Linked DNA regions of Homo sapiens: region 2 is linked to region 1. The links come from fine-mapping of genetic effects on gene expression. Tissue or cell type: liver. Region 1 holds a variant in brackets; the other region holds the start of a gene. All regions are shown on one strand. Distances are between the middles of the regions.

Region 1 (8,185 bases):
GGGCCAGCATCAGCCTCGGAGGCTTCAGAAAAGCAGAAACAAGGGCCCTGTGGCTAGTCCTTGTTTGACCCTTCCCTCCCTTGGCTTAACACAGCCTTTGGCAAAGGTCATAACCAAAGCAGCCTGTACTGAGGAAAAGCTCTGTGCTGAGTGCTTTTGTGTGCCTGATTCCATTTAAACCTCAGCAACCCTAGGAGGGAGGTACTATTATTACTGTCCCCATTGTATAGAGGAGGAAGCTGAGGCACAAAAAACAGGCAACATTCAGTAACTTGCCCAAGATCTTTCAGTTACTAAGAGGCAGAACTGGAATTTGAACCAGGTAGTCTGGCTCCAGAGGCCCATTAAGTTACTTGCCCAGGGCCACACAGTTAGCAAATGACTGTGATGAAATTTGAACCCAAGAAGCTTGCCTCCAGAGTGTGGAGGCAAAGCCATCCTCCGTGACCCCTCCTCCATCCCATAGTCACTTGGTATTTGCTGGGATCAGTAAGCAAGAGCACTGGGTGCCAGGAGAAACTTTCCTCCAAGAAGATGAACCCATCCCTGGGCGCCAGTACCTCTGCCCTGGCTGAGCCAGAAGCCGGAGCAATATAGGTGCTGTCTGTACGGCCTGTGTGCTTTGGCCTTCCCTCCTCCAGGTGTCTCCTCCAGCCCCAAACACTGTCACTCCCCAGACTGGAGCTGACCAACACTAGGAGGAGCCTGGTATTGCCCAGGCTCTCCACACCATGACATGTCTGGTCCTCCTCCCCTCATTCCTTTGCCCTTCCCTGAGATTGGCCATCACCATACTTGAATGCCCAAGTGTGTGTAATACACACATGCATGCACACGCACGCAGTCTTCTCCACTAGTGTTGACCCACCCAAGTTTTTTTTACCCTCAGCTTGCCAGGGGAAATTATCAAAAGGGATGGAGAGGAAATCTGGTGACTGGAGTCACGGCAAATGCTCTGAGGCCACCAAAGAGCCTGATGCCTGTCTAGAATCTCTAGTAAACAGCCCTGAGAACAGAGAGAATAGATTGGAAGAGATTCTTCTCCAACAGAACAAGAGTGCCATCTGTCTGTGTGTGCTGTGTGTGGCCACCTGAGCTCCTTCCCTTGGCCCTTAGTTGCCTTCTTGAGGGAGTAATTGCATGTCTTCAACCAAGACACTGGTCACCACTGTTTAAGGCCCTGGGGGGGCAGAGTTAAACACAACACAGCCTTGCTGAACTCCAGGAGCCCACAGAGTGCCAGGGCATACACCTTTATCACCATCCAGGGGGCATGAGGGCCCCATTGGGGGGGTCCAGATCTTGAGGTCTCTAAGAGTTCAGGGGTGAGTGAGGCAGAGCATCGTGCATCTGGGGTAGGGAGCACGTGGTGACAAGGAAAGCTGAGAGAAGGGGATAGTGCCACGGTGAGCCTTGACCACCCAGAAGTGTTAGAGAAGCCTCCCCCTCTTTGGCCTTAATGTCACCTTAGAAGGGCTCTTTCCTTTAAGAGTACGGCGAGAGGCTGTTCTTTGACTCCGCTATGTGCGGTCTCTCCTAGCTCTGGCCTTGAAAGGCATCGACTACGAGACGGTGCCCATCAATCTCATAAAGGATGGGGGCCAACAGGTAAGAAGGCTGTGCCCAGACCACAATGTGGGAATTGGAGGCCTTGAACAGGCACCAGGCAGGGGAAAAAGGGGAGGCTCTGCCCCAGAGAAGTGAACCTGTGTCTTGTGGACTATCACTGCAGGAGGCTGCTGGCTCTCCCTTGTGGGACAAGGTGGCAAGGTGTGCAGTAGCAGGAGGCCTGGGAAGGGCCCAGGTCCAGACTGTGTACCCTAGCCTGGGCTCTCCAGTGCCTGACCCTGGGAGGGTGGGTGGCTAGTGGGTCCCCACCCCATACTGGGCCCTCTGGATGGCTGACTAGGGTAGGAGCTGCCTTGGTGGCCACGGTGTGAGATGCAGGGAAAGCCCATAGCCAGGCTGTTAGGATGAAGCCTATGGCTCAGCAGCAGCTGGGCTTTGGGAGACTGCATGGATCCCCCAGGGATTACCCTGGGCCTAGGATTTAGGGCCTTCCCAGGGAAGGGAGATGGGGGTGGGTGGCAGGCCTGGGGTTCTCCTGCTTGCTTGGCTTTCCTCTGGCCAACTCAGGCCAGGCCACCCAGCCCACCAGGGCCTTGTCTCCACAGTTTTCTAAGGACTTCCAGGCACTGAATCCTATGAAGCAGGTGCCAACCCTGAAGATTGATGGAATCACCATTCACCAGTCAGTGAGTGCAGGGCCTGGGGGAGGGCCCTCATGAGAGCAGTGCCCTGAATGAGAGCGCCTGACATCTCTTCCTCGCCTGTGTACAGTCAAGGTGCCTAGCACATAGGAGAGGCTCAATACAAGACTCGTGGGGAGGGTGCGAGGTTATTTAGGAAAATAAGGGAAGATTCAAGCACATGGAGAACCAAGTTCTGCATGATAAGGTCCAAAAAGGCTTATAGGGCTTGAGCTGAGCAGAAGCAGGGGGGAAGAGGTGTAGTGATGGTGCTGGAAGAGGAGAAGGAGGAGTTTGCTGGCCCTGTCCCCTCTGGTCCAGGGGTCCTGGGCCCTCTCCCTGCCTCACTGCTCCCCTCTGGACAGCTGGCCATCATTGAGTATCTAGAGGAGATGCGTCCCACTCCGCGACTTCTGCCTCAGGACCCAAAGAAGAGGGCCAGCGTGCGTATGATTTCTGACCTCATCGCTGGTGGCATCCAGCCCCTGCAGGTGTGGCACTTGTACACTTGCACCCTTGCACACCTGACACACTCTTACACTCACACATTGGCTGTGAGCTGCCCAGTGTGGGGGCGGGGGTGTCAAGGGAGGGAGGGGGATTCTCAGGGCCTCTGACCTGGACCATGTGAAAGAAGGGGGTGAAGATCGCAATCTCAGAATTCAGCCCCCCAGCGGGTCCCCCGCTGCGTTCCGAGAAGCTCTAGTTTCCAAGGACGCATGTACAGGTGCTTGGGGTGGGGAAAGGGCCAGAATGGCAGGGGAGAGACTGAGCAGGCCCCAGTCCAGGCCTCCTGCCTTTAACCAGAGCAGCTTCCGTTTCATCTGTGCTATCTCAGTCATATACTGGGATACTTGTAGGATTTTATTTTTTAAGTGTCACTGTTAAAACAGACAACTAAGTATTAAAAACAGTTCATCTGTGCCAGCTTCTACTCTGAATGAGGAAATAGCCCCAGAAAGGTGGAGTGACTTAGGAGTCCCACAGGTAGGTCATAACAAAGTGGGGACTAAGTCAGAATCCCTGCATGCCTATGCCCTCTACCCGCATGTCGCTTTAACAAAGGATGTTGGAGCAGACAGACATCTCCATTTTATAATGAGGAAACAGAGGGAAAATGGCTCCAGGGGTGCCAAGATGGAGCCAGGCTGGAAATCTCTGGAAGCCGGTCTTGTGGACCTCCCTCATCCCAGCCCCACCCTCTTTCACACTCCCTCTCCTCACAAGGGACCATGCAAGGGAGAAGTGAGGGAGACAGGCCTCGAGTTGTGGGCACACCTGCCACAGCCATGGCCGCGTCCTGTGTCACATGAATAGGGATTCTTGCACATCTCTGACAGAATCACGTGGCTTTTTGAGGCCACTGGGGCAGCCTGCAAAGGTGGCTGCTGGGATGGCTACCTCCCTCCAACCTCAGGGCCCTTGGTTGAAGGAAGGGGCTCATGGAGCCTGGGGGAGAAGGGATAGACATCCAGCCAGGGGCAGATGGGAAGTGAACTTCCCTGAGGGGGTTTGGCGAAGGGGTAGCCCCCACCCAGCTGTCAGCGCAATCACAGATTTTCTTTGGGCTGCACAGAACCTGTCTGTCCTGAAGCAAGTGGGAGAGGAGATGCAGCTGACCTGGGCCCAGAACGCCATCACTTGTGGCTTTAACGGTGAGTCCTCACCTCTGTGAGCTGCCCCACAGTGGCCTCTTAGAGGTATGGCCCTCGCACACAGGGGCCTGGGTATCTGAACCAGCCTCCCAGGCTGCTTTGGGCCTGACAGTTGCATGGATGAGGGCAGGACTGGGGAGGCAATGGGCTGGGTGGGCATCCAGACCTTAGCTCCAGCACTTCTGGGAACCTCGGTCCCTGAGCCCACAGCCCTTCATAGCTGGATGGCCCAACTTCAGCTTCACTGCCTACTCCAGCTGGGAAACCAAGGCCAGCACAGCGCCAGCCATCAGAGTGAGAGCTGTCACCGTGGCCAGTGGCAGGGCTTGTCCACTCGAGTGGGGAAATGGTGATTGTCTGTGCGGAGCCTCAGGAAACAGCAGCTCATCCCTAACAGCTCTCTCGAGACCTGGCTGCCACATTCTCACCAGCAGCCATGCCCAGTCTGTCACTCAGTTGGGCGCCCATTTCATAACTATGGAGGCCAAGGCCCAGAAAGCTTTGTGTCCCCTCCCTGCGCCCAGAATAAGATGTTTATGTGGCCTCCCCACAGCCCTGGAGCAGATCCTACAGAGCACAGCGGGCATATACTGTGTAGGAGACGAGGTAAGCTGTCCCCAGACCTCCCCAGGCCCAGCCACAGTGGCTGCCTCCCTCATGCTGACCTCCCTCAAGCTCAGAGCTTCCTGAGAAGGCGTCTGCAGGGGGATCTCTGTGCCATGGGGCACTCCTCAGCTCACTCCCACTAAACCGTCTTAAGAGGGAGTTACTCAAGGTAGAAGACTGGCTGTGAGAGGATGAGGCGGGCCAGCATCAGTTGAGGGATTGTGCTAGATGATGTCTGCGCAGTCAA[G/A]GCAATCCATCTTCTCTGGCCCTCTCAACCCACAGAGTTGGTTGTCAGGGCAACTGGAGCATGGCCTGGGAGGGCACTTCAGCTCCGGGGGACAGACTCATGCAGGCCTAGGGCAGACAAGAATTGGAGGTGGGATGGGTGAAAGAGCCGAAGCAGATTGTTGGTACCCCCAGTAGAGTCGCAGTGGACACACCCAGTCCAGCCACTGACTCTGGGGTATGCACCCTGATGGGAACCCACCGGGACCTCTTTCAGGTGACCATGGCTGATCTGTGCTTGGTGCCTCAGGTGGCAAATGCTGAAAGGTAAGAGAGAGCCCCGCCACCCTCCCTTCTCGTGGCTCTGCCCACAGTCAGGCCCCACTCAGCTGGCGAGATAGCATCTCATGCAGACGCTTCGCCAACCAGCCAAGGAGCCCACCATGCCAGGCCACATAGCCACTTCTGCCTGGAAGAGGGCAGAAGAAATTGGGGCAGTGCTCCTACTACGCCCACCACAGCCCAGATGAACCTGTATAGATAGCCCCAGCTCCTAAGAGGAGGTGGCTCACCTGGTGGACCCCCAAGAGCACCTGCCTGATGTCCTCAAATGTGGTGTGTCTGTGAGCAGTAGTGAGCTCTACCTCTGCATCCTTCCGTGAACCCTTTGGTAGGGCACAAATGAGCACCTCTCTGGAAGGCATCATGCTAGGCGTTAGGGATATGGAAACGTATGGCACATTCCCTGCCCCCAAGAAGCTTACAACATGGGGGAAGAGAGTCTGTATATATAAATGCCTAGCACTGGGCCTTACACATAGCAGGTTCACAAAGAAATAGGAACAGTAGGTAACAGATGCCAAATGATACTGCACAAGACCTACCCATCCCCTGTGAATAAGGGCTGCCCCATCGTCCTTCCCTGGACAGCTCCCTCGACCTCATCCAGCCCTGCCTCTCTGCTCCCCCTGCTGCATCAGGGCAGTCTCCCTGTGTCCCTGAAAACCTTAGCTTAGCAGGTGTTTCTCTACTACAGATTCAAGGTGGATCTCACCCCCTACCCTACCATCAGCTCCATCAACAAGAGGCTGCTGGTCTTGGAGGCCTTCCAGGTGTCTCACCCCTGCCGGCAGCCAGATACACCCACTGAGCTGAGGGCCTAGCTCCCAAATCCTGCCCCGTTGGCACAGGGCCACAGGAGCAGAAGCTGGGTGGGCTGAAGAGGCCTGGAAACGAGAGTCTTAATTGAGGAGATGGGAGACTCGAACTCTAGCCCTGGATCTGCCTTCCTGCTGAAACTTGTTCCACCTCAGTCCCCTCATCTGTCACACGCATGTGGGGTGGAGTAGGGAGATGCGGGGAGCAGGGTGGGCAGGAATACTGTTATCTATGTGACGGGGCAGTCGTGAGGCTGAGATGAGAATGCGGATTAAAATGCCTGGCGTGCTCACCGTAACACCACGGGGAAGGCTGTGTGCCTTTTCTCATCCGCTTTTGTTGTGTGTGACTCCAAAGAATGCCCGCGCTGAAATTTGGCGTGAATTAAACTGAAGCCCAGGCCTCTACCTTGTTTGTCTAAGACTGAGCTAGGTTCCAGAAGATGAACACTGTCCCTAGCTGGAATCCCCTGTGCCTGGACCAGTAGAGGAAGTCAGTCAGCCACTTGCCTACCCTGTGGCAGGCCTGGCCCATGGGACCTAAGGGCAATGATGAGAAATATACCCAAAAGCCTGCCTGAAAGAATCAGACAAGATCCAGGGAGATAACAGATAGAAGCAGGAAAGCATCTAGTGACTGGCTGAGTTCTCAGGGCTAGGAATGGTACCGTTGTTAAATGTTCCACTCCAGGCTGGGCGCAGTGGCTCATGCCTATAATCCCTGCACTTTGGGAGGCCGAGGCAGGTGGATCACTTGAGGTCAGGAGTTCAAGACCAGCCTGGCCAACATGGTGAAACCCCGACTCTACTAAAAATACAAAAATTAGCCGGGTGTAGTGGCAGGTGCCTGTAGTCCCAGCTGAGGTGGGAGAATGGCTTGAACCTGGGAGGTGGAGGTTGCAGTGAGCCGAGATTGCACCAGTGCACTCCAGCTTGGGAGATAGAGTGAGACTCCATCTAAAAAAAAAAAACATATTCCACTCCAGCACTGAGAGGCCATTTGGCCCTCTCAACCAGTCCCTCGTCTTCAGGGCCAGCATTCTCCAGACCAGTCCCAGGATTAGGCACTCGGGGTAAATCCAGTCACAGATGGTGCTGGGAATGGGAGGCAGGCTCCCCCGTGGGCAGTGTGAGCAGCTACTGACCAGGCCAGCTTAGGAGACCAAGCAGGTAGCAGTGTACCACAGGCTGCCCTGGAGGGAGCAAGTTCCCATGCTTGGCAGTGTTCAGGCAGAACCAGGACCACCTCTGGGCAGAGATGCCGTACAGAGATTGGGGTAGCTTCTGGGGATGAAATGAGATGACTTTTTAGGAGCTTTACCTCTTGAAGGCCCCACCTCTGAATACTGTTGTATTGGAGATTAAGTTTCAACATGAATTTTAGAGGGGACATAAACATTTAAATCGTAGCAAAGACCATCACCTTTTTACAGGACATTTTCCAGTAGGGGCTTCTCTCAAACGGATGAGTGGTAAGTCAAGTCCTTCCTTTCCATATCACACTCAGCAGACACCTGATCCTGATATGCTAGAGGCACAGGGAGACTAGATATGTACGTGGTCTTCCCAGAGTGGGAGTGGCCACAGTGAAGGAAGAACAATGATGGAGGGGCCTGATACTGGTAATTCCAACTCTATGGAAGTAACAAGTCCCCAGAAATACTTCAGGAGGAGGAAAGCAGTAGGGAGGTGCTATCAGGAAATACCTGAGAACAAAGCAAAAATTATAGGCTGTGTTCCTCAGAAATTTTACATATCCATTAAGGAAAGTGGCAAACTTACTGGATAAACAGGTGATACACATACTCATACTATTTTTTTTTATTTTTATTTATTTATTTTTTTTTTGTGATGGAGTCTTGCTCTGTCATGCCCAGGCTGGAGTGCAGTGGTAAGAGCTCAGGTTCATTGCAACTTTCCACCTCCTGGGTTCAAGTGATTCTCCTGCCTCAGCCTCCCGAGTACTGGGATTACAGGCGCGTTGGTTAAGCTGGTCTCGAACTCCTGACCTCAGGTGATCTGCCCACTTCGGCCTCCCAAAGTGCTGGGATTACAGGCGTGAGCCACCACGCCTGGCCAAGATACGGCTCCTCCTAACTTTTAGTGTTTTGTTTTTGTTTTTTTTTTTTTTTTTGGAGACAGAGTCTCACTCTCTCGCCAGGCTGGAGTGCAGTGGAGCGATCTCGGTTCACTGCAACCTCCGCCTCCCAGGTTCAAGGGATTCTCCTGCCTCAGCCTCCCAAGTAGCTGGGACTGCAGGCCCACGCCACCACACCCAGCTAATTTTTGTATT
Region 2 (8,143 bases), 48 kb after region 1:
ACTGCAACCTCTGCCTCCTGGGTTCAAGTGATTCTCCTGCCTCAGCCTCCTGAGTAGCTGGGACAGATATGAAATATTTTCATCACTGCAAAAAGACTTATTGTAATATTCTAACTTCTACCTTAGAACCATGAACAAGTTTACCTGACCTGTTTCCATCCTCAACATCTAAATGTATTGATAGCTCTGGGGGACATACACACCAAACTAAGTTCTACTGCTGACTTCAGGATCACAATAGAGTTTTATTTTCCTTTAAACTTAAAAAAAAAACAAAAACAAAAACAAAAAAACCTGCCTTTAAGTGATGCAACAAGTATGCCTCAGATAGTTTCATAATTAAAGAATGATTTATCTCTCCTCTGGGGAACTGAAGAACCCAGGTGCCTCAAATAAAAGACTATTAAAAACAATTACAATGCATAAAACAATAAGAACACCATGACCACTGGAGAGCTTAGTTCATAAGAACATAAATCCTTTCCTTCCTTTTCACCAAAACCTCAGCTAACAAACATGAAGACACTCAATAGGTATTCTCTGCAGAGAACACTTTTAAAAAACAAGTTATGGTTATTCTGGATAATGACACATTCCTGCTTTGAAGGAATAAGATACACCAAAAAACCAAAACCCTTAACTCAACAATACCTGATATGGCTTGGATGTTTGTTCCCTCCAAATCTCACGCTGAAATGTGATTTCCAATGTTAGAGGTGAGGTCTGGTGGGAGGTGACTGGATCGTGGAGATGAATCCCTCATGAATGATTTGGCATCATCCTCTTGATGATAAGTGAGTTCTCACTCAGTTAGTTCACCTGAGATATGGTTGTTTAAAAGAGTCTGGGACCTCCTCCCGTCTCTCTCTCTCTCACTCCCAACTCTCGCCATGTGACATACCTGCTCCCCCTTTCAGTATGATTCTAAGCTTCTTGAGGCCCTCACCAGAAACAGATACCAACACCACACTTCCTGTACACCCTGCAATACCATGAGCCAATTAAAACTCTTTTCTTATAAATTACTCAGTCTCAGGTATTCCAAATGGACTAACAGAACACCTGAATATCCAATTCCATTTCTTACTGCTGTTTTCTCTCTGAAAGGGTGAGAGAAATCTCATTAAATTTCATTCTTTCTTAGAGCTCTATTGCTTACTCATTGTATCATTTTCTAGAGGAAGATGGCAGAAGGATCCAATCAAACGAATTCCAAGTTTAAAGCAGTTTTTTGGGGTTTACGCCCAAGCCTCTGGTCCAGGCCAAATATAGTATTTCCACACTGCTTTGGAAGCCCAGCTTAACTCTAACACAGCGTTCCCAAAAGCAGCACCACTGACATCTGGAGCCAGATACCTCCTTGTTATGGGGATTGCCCTGTGCCTTGCAGGATGTTTAGCAAACATCCCTAGCCTATCCTCACTAGATGTCAGCAATAGCTGCCACCAGTTGTGACGAGCAAAAATGTTTCCAAACATTGCCATGCCCTGGGGATACAAAATCGTACCTGGTTGAAAACCATTGCTCTAACCCAAGGAACATTCTTGGTTATCTCAACCCTAATTCTTCACATTCATTAGATGCTCATCCAGATCTCTGCATTCAGACTTTCTCTCACCATCAAACTCAGCAAATATTTGCGAAACCTCTAAAACACAACATCAAGGGCTCTAGATAAATAAACAAGCAAGAGAGATTCCGTTCCTAACTCCAAGCAGGTTTCTTAGTAGATAAAGAATTGTAATAAAAGACGCCCAATTATATAATGTTTTGAATTGTTAATTGTTTCTCCCTGAAATGGATCTCTCATCTCATCAAACTGAAAACACCTTGAGGACAGAGACCATAACCTGTCTGCGAGTACCAATACTTGATTCATGGCCAATAAAAACAAACAATTATAGACTTCATCATAACAAGATGACAATTTCATCCAGACAGTAAAAACTTGCGCTAACTTGAACAGGTAAGTTAACCTTTCTCAGCTGTAGTTTGTTCCTCTGTAAAATGGGAAGAAAATGATTGTTGACATGACTAAATCAGAAAATATAAATTTTTTTCCACCTCTGGCACAGAATAAGCATTCAATATCTGTAGGTTATCATTACTATTATTTTATTAGCAACAAATCCTACCTCAAGAGGAAGAGCTTGCTCTGGGCTACTATAATAAACCCCTACATGACATTAAAAAAAAAAATTATCACCCTGCATTCTGAGGGTAAGAGGAAGGAAAGTAAGCATCTCTACCAATGTCCTGGGAGGAAGTGAATGCAGGAATGAATTAGATGTCAGGGGGAAAAAAAAACACACTCATCTATCTAAAACGCGTGGGTACGTTTGCCATAAACACATGAGAACCTAAAGGGGAAGTAAAAACATGCTTAATTTGTAAATACTGGCGCATGCAAGGGACAAGTGTTATAAGACTTACCTTTCTGTGTTTACTTGCTTAGTCTTTTAGACATTATGCTTAGAATTTCTACTGCTATGTTAAATATATGCCAACGATTTTTAATTTAATACAAAGCAGAGTTCGTAAGAAAAAAAGGCAAAATTTGTCAGGTGTTTTAAAGTAAAAGAATATAAAATCATGGGAAAGAGCTGGGTGAGTTGTGTGTGTGTTTGAATAAGGCAGCATTATGAGAGGGAAGATACTTGGGATCAGAGTAGAAGACAGAAAAAGGCACCATGTTGGAAGCCATACATCCAAGAACACCTCTGGCGGCACAGGAAGTTCAACTGAACAAAAAGAGACCTTACTGTCACAATGGTTGAGACGAGTATAGTGTGTACCATGGACTATACCCCAAATGCCTTAGACAAAGCAGCTCAAGTAATCCTCACAATAATCCTATGAGGCAGATATTTTTAGTAATCACATTTTACAGATGAGGAAACTGACGTTTCAGACTCCAATCCAGGCACCCTGGCTCCACAGTAGTGCCTCAACCATTATACTTTATGGTGTCTATTTTAATTTCAGACCTAGAAAATTAATTTATATTTGCTACTTAAATAAGACAAGTTCTCTCCCCTCTACCCTTTCGTATTTCAAAAGAGCATCCTTTCAGTTGCATCGTGTGTGGTGTTCAGGAGGCTGAAAGAAGAAAGTGTGATGGATGGACTCTTTTGTCTTTGGACACTGAAATAATACACACGGAGGAACTCGCGTTAGTAGAAATGGAGACGTCGTCCTGGACAAGAAGAGGATGAGGGTCTTGAGAATGAGGGAGGTAGGCCAAATTTTTAATTCCTGCTCTTGCTTTGGCTACTGTGTTCAAGCAAAAGACCCCAGACACTACCTATTTCAACTCTGCTTTTCATTTTTCCCACTCTAAGCGATGGAGAGGATGGCAGCAAGGCCAGGGGGCCTATGTGCAGGAAGGCTAGGGCGCAGTGGGCTTCTGGCAGAGGAAGGCAAGGCTGCCAACCCGGGTGGGGGCCGAGAGGCGCGTGGTAAGGCTGGGGCAGGGGACTGAGATGGGGATAGGGTGGGGAGCCAGAAGCAGGGGGCGGCGAGGCCAGTAGGGTTCGGGTCGGCAGTCTAGATGTGATTAGCAGACGGAGGTGGGACCCGAACCCCGGCTGAAGCTGAAACTGAAGCTGAAGAGGCGCCAGGGGCAGAGCCACCCTGTCACTACCATTTGGGCAGATCTCAGAAAGGAAGCGGGGCAGGAATCAAGGCATTTCGAAACAGGAGTGAGTAGAAAATAACCTCGAGCCCAGGGCCCGGGTGGTGGCAGCGGCGGGGAAGGGGCCCCGCGCGCGAAGGGGCTGCCGAGGTGGGTCCGCTCCGCGGGGAAGCCCAGGACAGAGCGCGGCGGAGGCTCGCGCCGTGGTGCGGGGCCCTGAGGCCGGGCGGCACCCACCCGCCAGCGCCCCGGCCTTGCGTACCTGAGGCGGCCGCCTGGCTCCCCTCCACTCCCTGGCAGTCCCCGACGCCGCCAGCCGACCCTGGGCGGGCTGTGGGGCTCCAGGAGCCCGGCCCCTCAGCCGCCTGCAGGTCAGACATCTGCAGCCCGCGCACGGAGCTCTCCGCTGCCAGCCGCGAGTGGCTCCGGAAACAGCCGAAGGCCGAGCGAGCGCCGAGCACAGCCGAGCGCAGCCTGCAGGCCGGAAGAAGCGGCGCGGCGGCCGCTTGAAAAGCTAGCTGACCCAGGGGCGGCCACAGGAGCTCTGGCCCGCTGAGGCTGGCGATGAGGCCGCAGGGAGGGTTACTGCGTGCTTGTGACAGACGATTTTTAAAGTCAGGGCTTGAAAGAACAAACAAAACCTGGGGAAGAGTCAGGAAGACACTGCCGGAAATCGTGGTATCCATAGAGACGCTATCGGAAGTTGGGGTTGCTAGGAAGCCGCGGCGCGTCTGCTAAGCTGCAAATGGCTGAAGTCCCGGAGGATTATGATTCCGGCCCAGATGAAGATGGAGAGCTGGAGCCTGAGAGGCCTGAACTGCCTGGACTTCATAAATTGTATGAAAATGCCGAACCAGACACCATGGCAAAGGCAGACTCGAAGCTACCAGCAGAGATTTACCAAGAGCCACAGCCAGAGACCGAGGAAGAGGACTTCAAAGAGGGGGAGCCAGACAGTGCTAAGAACGTGCAGCTGAAACCTGGCGGGACGTCCCAGGAAGGAATTGCCAAGGAGTCCAAGAGAGACGTACCAAGCGAAACTGAACCAGGGATACACCAAGAGGTAAAGTCGGAAACATCCAGAGAGATGGGAGAGTTTTTCAAAGATTTGGAGGCCCCTATGGATGAAACGCATAAAGAGTCAGACCTAGAGCCACCAGAGGAGGCTAAACCAAATGTTACAGAGGATGTGTTCCTAGAGTCAGCTATGGAAACAGATCCAGATCCAGTGCCACCAACGGAAACCATGTCTGAGGTTTCGGGGGCCACAGTCAGAGAGAGAAATTTAGAATTACTAGAGGAGGAGACTGAACCGGGGGTTCCAGAGGAATCACTTAGAGTGCAACATGAAGAGACAGGTCTAGAGCCTCCAGAGCAGACCAAACAAGATTTTCCAAGTGAGAAACTAGGAGAATCACTTGAAGAGACAGATCTTCAGCCACCAAAGATGACCAAACCAGAGACTCCAGAGGAGACACAAAGAGAGTCAACTGAGAAGAAAAGGACAGAGCCACCCGAGCAGGCTAGACTGGAATTTCTGGAGAAGGAACCAAGAAAGTCTAGTGAGGAGGCAGGTCTAGAGCCTCCAGAAGAGACTCAACCAGAGGTTCCAGAGGAGATGCAAAGAAAGGCAACTGAGGAGAAAGGGACAGAACTACCTGAGCGGACTAAACCAGACTTTCCAGACCACAAGCCAAGAAAGTCTACTGATGAGAACGTTCCTGAGCCACTAGAAGAGATCAAATTAGAGTTTCCTGAGGAAGAATCAAGAAAAACAAATGAGGAAACAATTCTAGAACAATCAGAAATGATGAAACCAGAAAGTCCAGAAGAGATAAGAAAGTCAAATGAGAAAAAAAATCCACAGCCACCAGAGGAGACTGGTCCAGTGCTACCACAGGAGATCAACCCACAAGTTGAAGAGAAAACACAAACAAAGCCAACTGAGAAAATTCTAGAGTTACCAGATGAAACCAAACCAAGGGAGACACATGTAGAATTTTCCAAGGAAGACAGGCCAGAACCAATAAAGTCTAAGTATTCTGTAGGAAACGATGAGCTAGAGCACCGTGAGCCTAAAAGAGGAAAGTTGTCACTAAGTGACAAATTTAGAAAAGAATATTACGCATTAGGATCTCTCAGAGAAAGTGAAGAATCAATTGGTACACATTATGAGTTTTTGCAACCACTCCAAAAATTGCTTAATGTCAGTGAAGAATGCTCATACTCAGATCCCTCAGAGTCTCAGACAGAATTAAGTGAGTTCGTTCATGAAAAGGAAGTTGTAGATTTGTCCCAAGAGTTGAAGGAACGGGTCTCTGAAGATGACGAAACCCAGCCAGAAAAAGGGACTGAGTTACAATTTGAGCATCTTAATTGGGATCCAGAGGAAGTTGCAGAGTGGATTAGCCAGCTAGGCTTCCCTCAATACAAGGTATACAAAAATAAGATGTTTTGAAATCACATGCTGTCATCCGTCTACTTCTTATTCCTTCTAACTTGGCCTGAGCTCTTACCTCTTTACCGGAAGGAGTATCAAAAAGTCCTAGACTGTGGTAGAGGTAACTTGGATTTTAATTTTGGCCTTGCCACTGATGTATATTTGTATTTTGGGAGAGGAAGGGAGGGTCACATCGGTTTGTTTTTCCTCTTCCAGTGATTACACTTCTCTGCAATCCTTGAATAAAAGACCAAGAAGAGTATATAGACCTCCTTTCTTTTTTTTTTTTTGAGACACAATCTCGCTCTTGCCAAGGTTGGAGTGCAGTGGCACGATCTCGGCTCACTGCAAGCTCCACCTTCCCCAGGTTCACGCCATTCTCCTGCCTCAACCTCCTGAGTAGCTGGGACTGGGACTACAGGCGCCCGCCACCATGCGCGGCTAATTTTTTGTATTTTTAGTAGAGACGGGGTTTCACTGTGTTAGCCAGGATGGTCTCCATCTCCTGACCTCGTGATCCGCCAGCCTCAGCCTCCCAAAGTGCTGGGATTACAGGCGTGAGCCACCGTGCCCGGCCTTAGACCTCCTTTCATAGAAAACTGTATTTTTAAGTAGACTTTGTTCAAGGTAGGCTTTTTGGTACTTTGTCAAGTTATTTTAGTGGCAGCTCCCTTGCTTTGAACTTGTGCTATTACTTTTTAAAGTGTCTGCCCCAAATATGTCACCTGTATCATGAGCACTTAAGTGTATTAATTCAAGTTAGCCAGTTAACCAAAACTAGTTTTAGTAAAAAGTCAGTGTAAACCTCTTGTTTCACTGATGCCAACTAGGTTTAAGGCTACCACAAAACAATACAAGATCTGAAACCTTTTGTACCTACTATACTTACAAATGTAATTGAGACATGAAGAAGCACTGGTTGTACCATGCCCAAAAAAACAGTTAAAGAGCAGTGTAAAATTTAATAAAGAGCTTACATGGAAAAATTGTGCCGTTATTGGGATAGAAAGTAAATTTAAGCTACTCAGGAGGCTGGGGCAGGAGGACTGCTTGAGTCCAGGAGTTCGAGGCTGCAGTGATCTATGACTGCAGCACTGCACTCCCGCCTGGATGACAGAGTGAGACCCTGTCTCTAAAAAAGAAAAAACAAAATAATATTTTTTTCTCAGGGTAGAACAAACACGACTTCTTCCCTTCCTCCCCCTTCCCTCCCTTTCTTCCTTCTATTTGCAGTACATTTTTTAAGTGATGTCCTTGTTGTATTGACAGGAGTGTTTTATCACAAACTTCATCAGTGGCCGAAAACTCATTCACGTCAACTGCTCAAACCTCCCTCAGATGGGGATAACAAACTTTGAGGACATGAAGGTGAGTTGTGTCCAAAGTTTCCCTACAGAGCACTGTTAACAGTGCCACCATCTGTCTCAAACCAACCTTTTTTTCCTCCAGCCTGGCCTCCCACTTCTGTCAATGGTGTCATCATAATTCCAGTTCCTCAGGCTCACGGTGGTTGCCTCCTCTTTCTCCTTTGATCCCCATAAATATTCCAAGAACTGTCCATTGCTCCTGTGGCACTTACACCGTCTGGCTTTCTTCATTCCCACTTTTCAGACCTTATGGCCTCATGCCTAGAACACCACAGTGGCCTCCCGCTTTTAGCCTGTCTCAATGGACCCTTTGGATTCAAGGGCCCTGCTTTTATGCTCTCACTTTCCACCTACTTATGTACTATTCAAAAACCTTCTTTGGATCCCTTCTGCTTACCAAGATAGTCTCCACTCCCTAGTTTAGAATTTAGGGCCCTCCACAAGTTCTCTCCCCTACCACTCCTCCACATGAATTTTGTGCTCCAGCCTACCACCAGGTCTAACACCTTCGCAAACCTGCCTGGTGCGTTCTTCTCTCTATGTCTTCGCTCAGTTCCCCCATCCTCTGTATTACTAATATGAATCTTAATCATCCTTCAAGACCAGTTCCTCATTTGCATCTCCCCAAGAAGTCTTTTGTAACATTCCCAGCCCACAGTAGCCCCCATCCCAAGTTCTCATGACATTTTGTGTCTCTGACAC

The links. PIP is the estimated chance that this variant, and not a neighbour inherited with it, causes the effect.
Region 2: TMED8 starts here. The variant in region 1 is fine-mapped to the expression of TMED8 in liver (GTEx, PIP 0.98).

What each region holds. Positions count from the first base shown.
Region 1 is chr14:77,325,298-77,333,482 of GRCh38, forward strand. GSTZ1 (glutathione S-transferase zeta 1) reads left to right here. Exons shown (of 9, transcript NM_145870.3): 3 at 1,541-1,608; 4 at 2,175-2,255; 5 at 2,615-2,740; 6 at 3,826-3,904; 7 at 4,458-4,510; 8 at 5,013-5,062; 9 at 5,772-6,300. The coding sequence ends at 5,898. Among named protein-coding and RNA genes, the nearest start is that of GSTZ1, 8.4 kb to the left of the region's middle. RefSeq lists an enhancer at 4,305-5,504. The variant G/A (reference allele first, on the strand shown) is at 4,758.
Region 2 is chr14:77,373,040-77,381,182 of GRCh38, forward strand. It overlaps TMED8 (transmembrane p24 trafficking protein family member 8), which reads right to left and starts at 4,055. Exons shown (of 6, transcript NM_213601.3): 1 at 3,897-4,055. The coding sequence starts at 4,014. It overlaps SAMD15 (sterile alpha motif domain containing 15), which reads left to right and starts at 4,340. Exons shown (of 3, transcript NM_001010860.4): 1 at 4,340-6,068; 2 at 7,344-7,442. The coding sequence starts at 4,380. RefSeq lists silencers at 3,633-4,062, 7,456-7,636 and an enhancer at 4,113-4,322.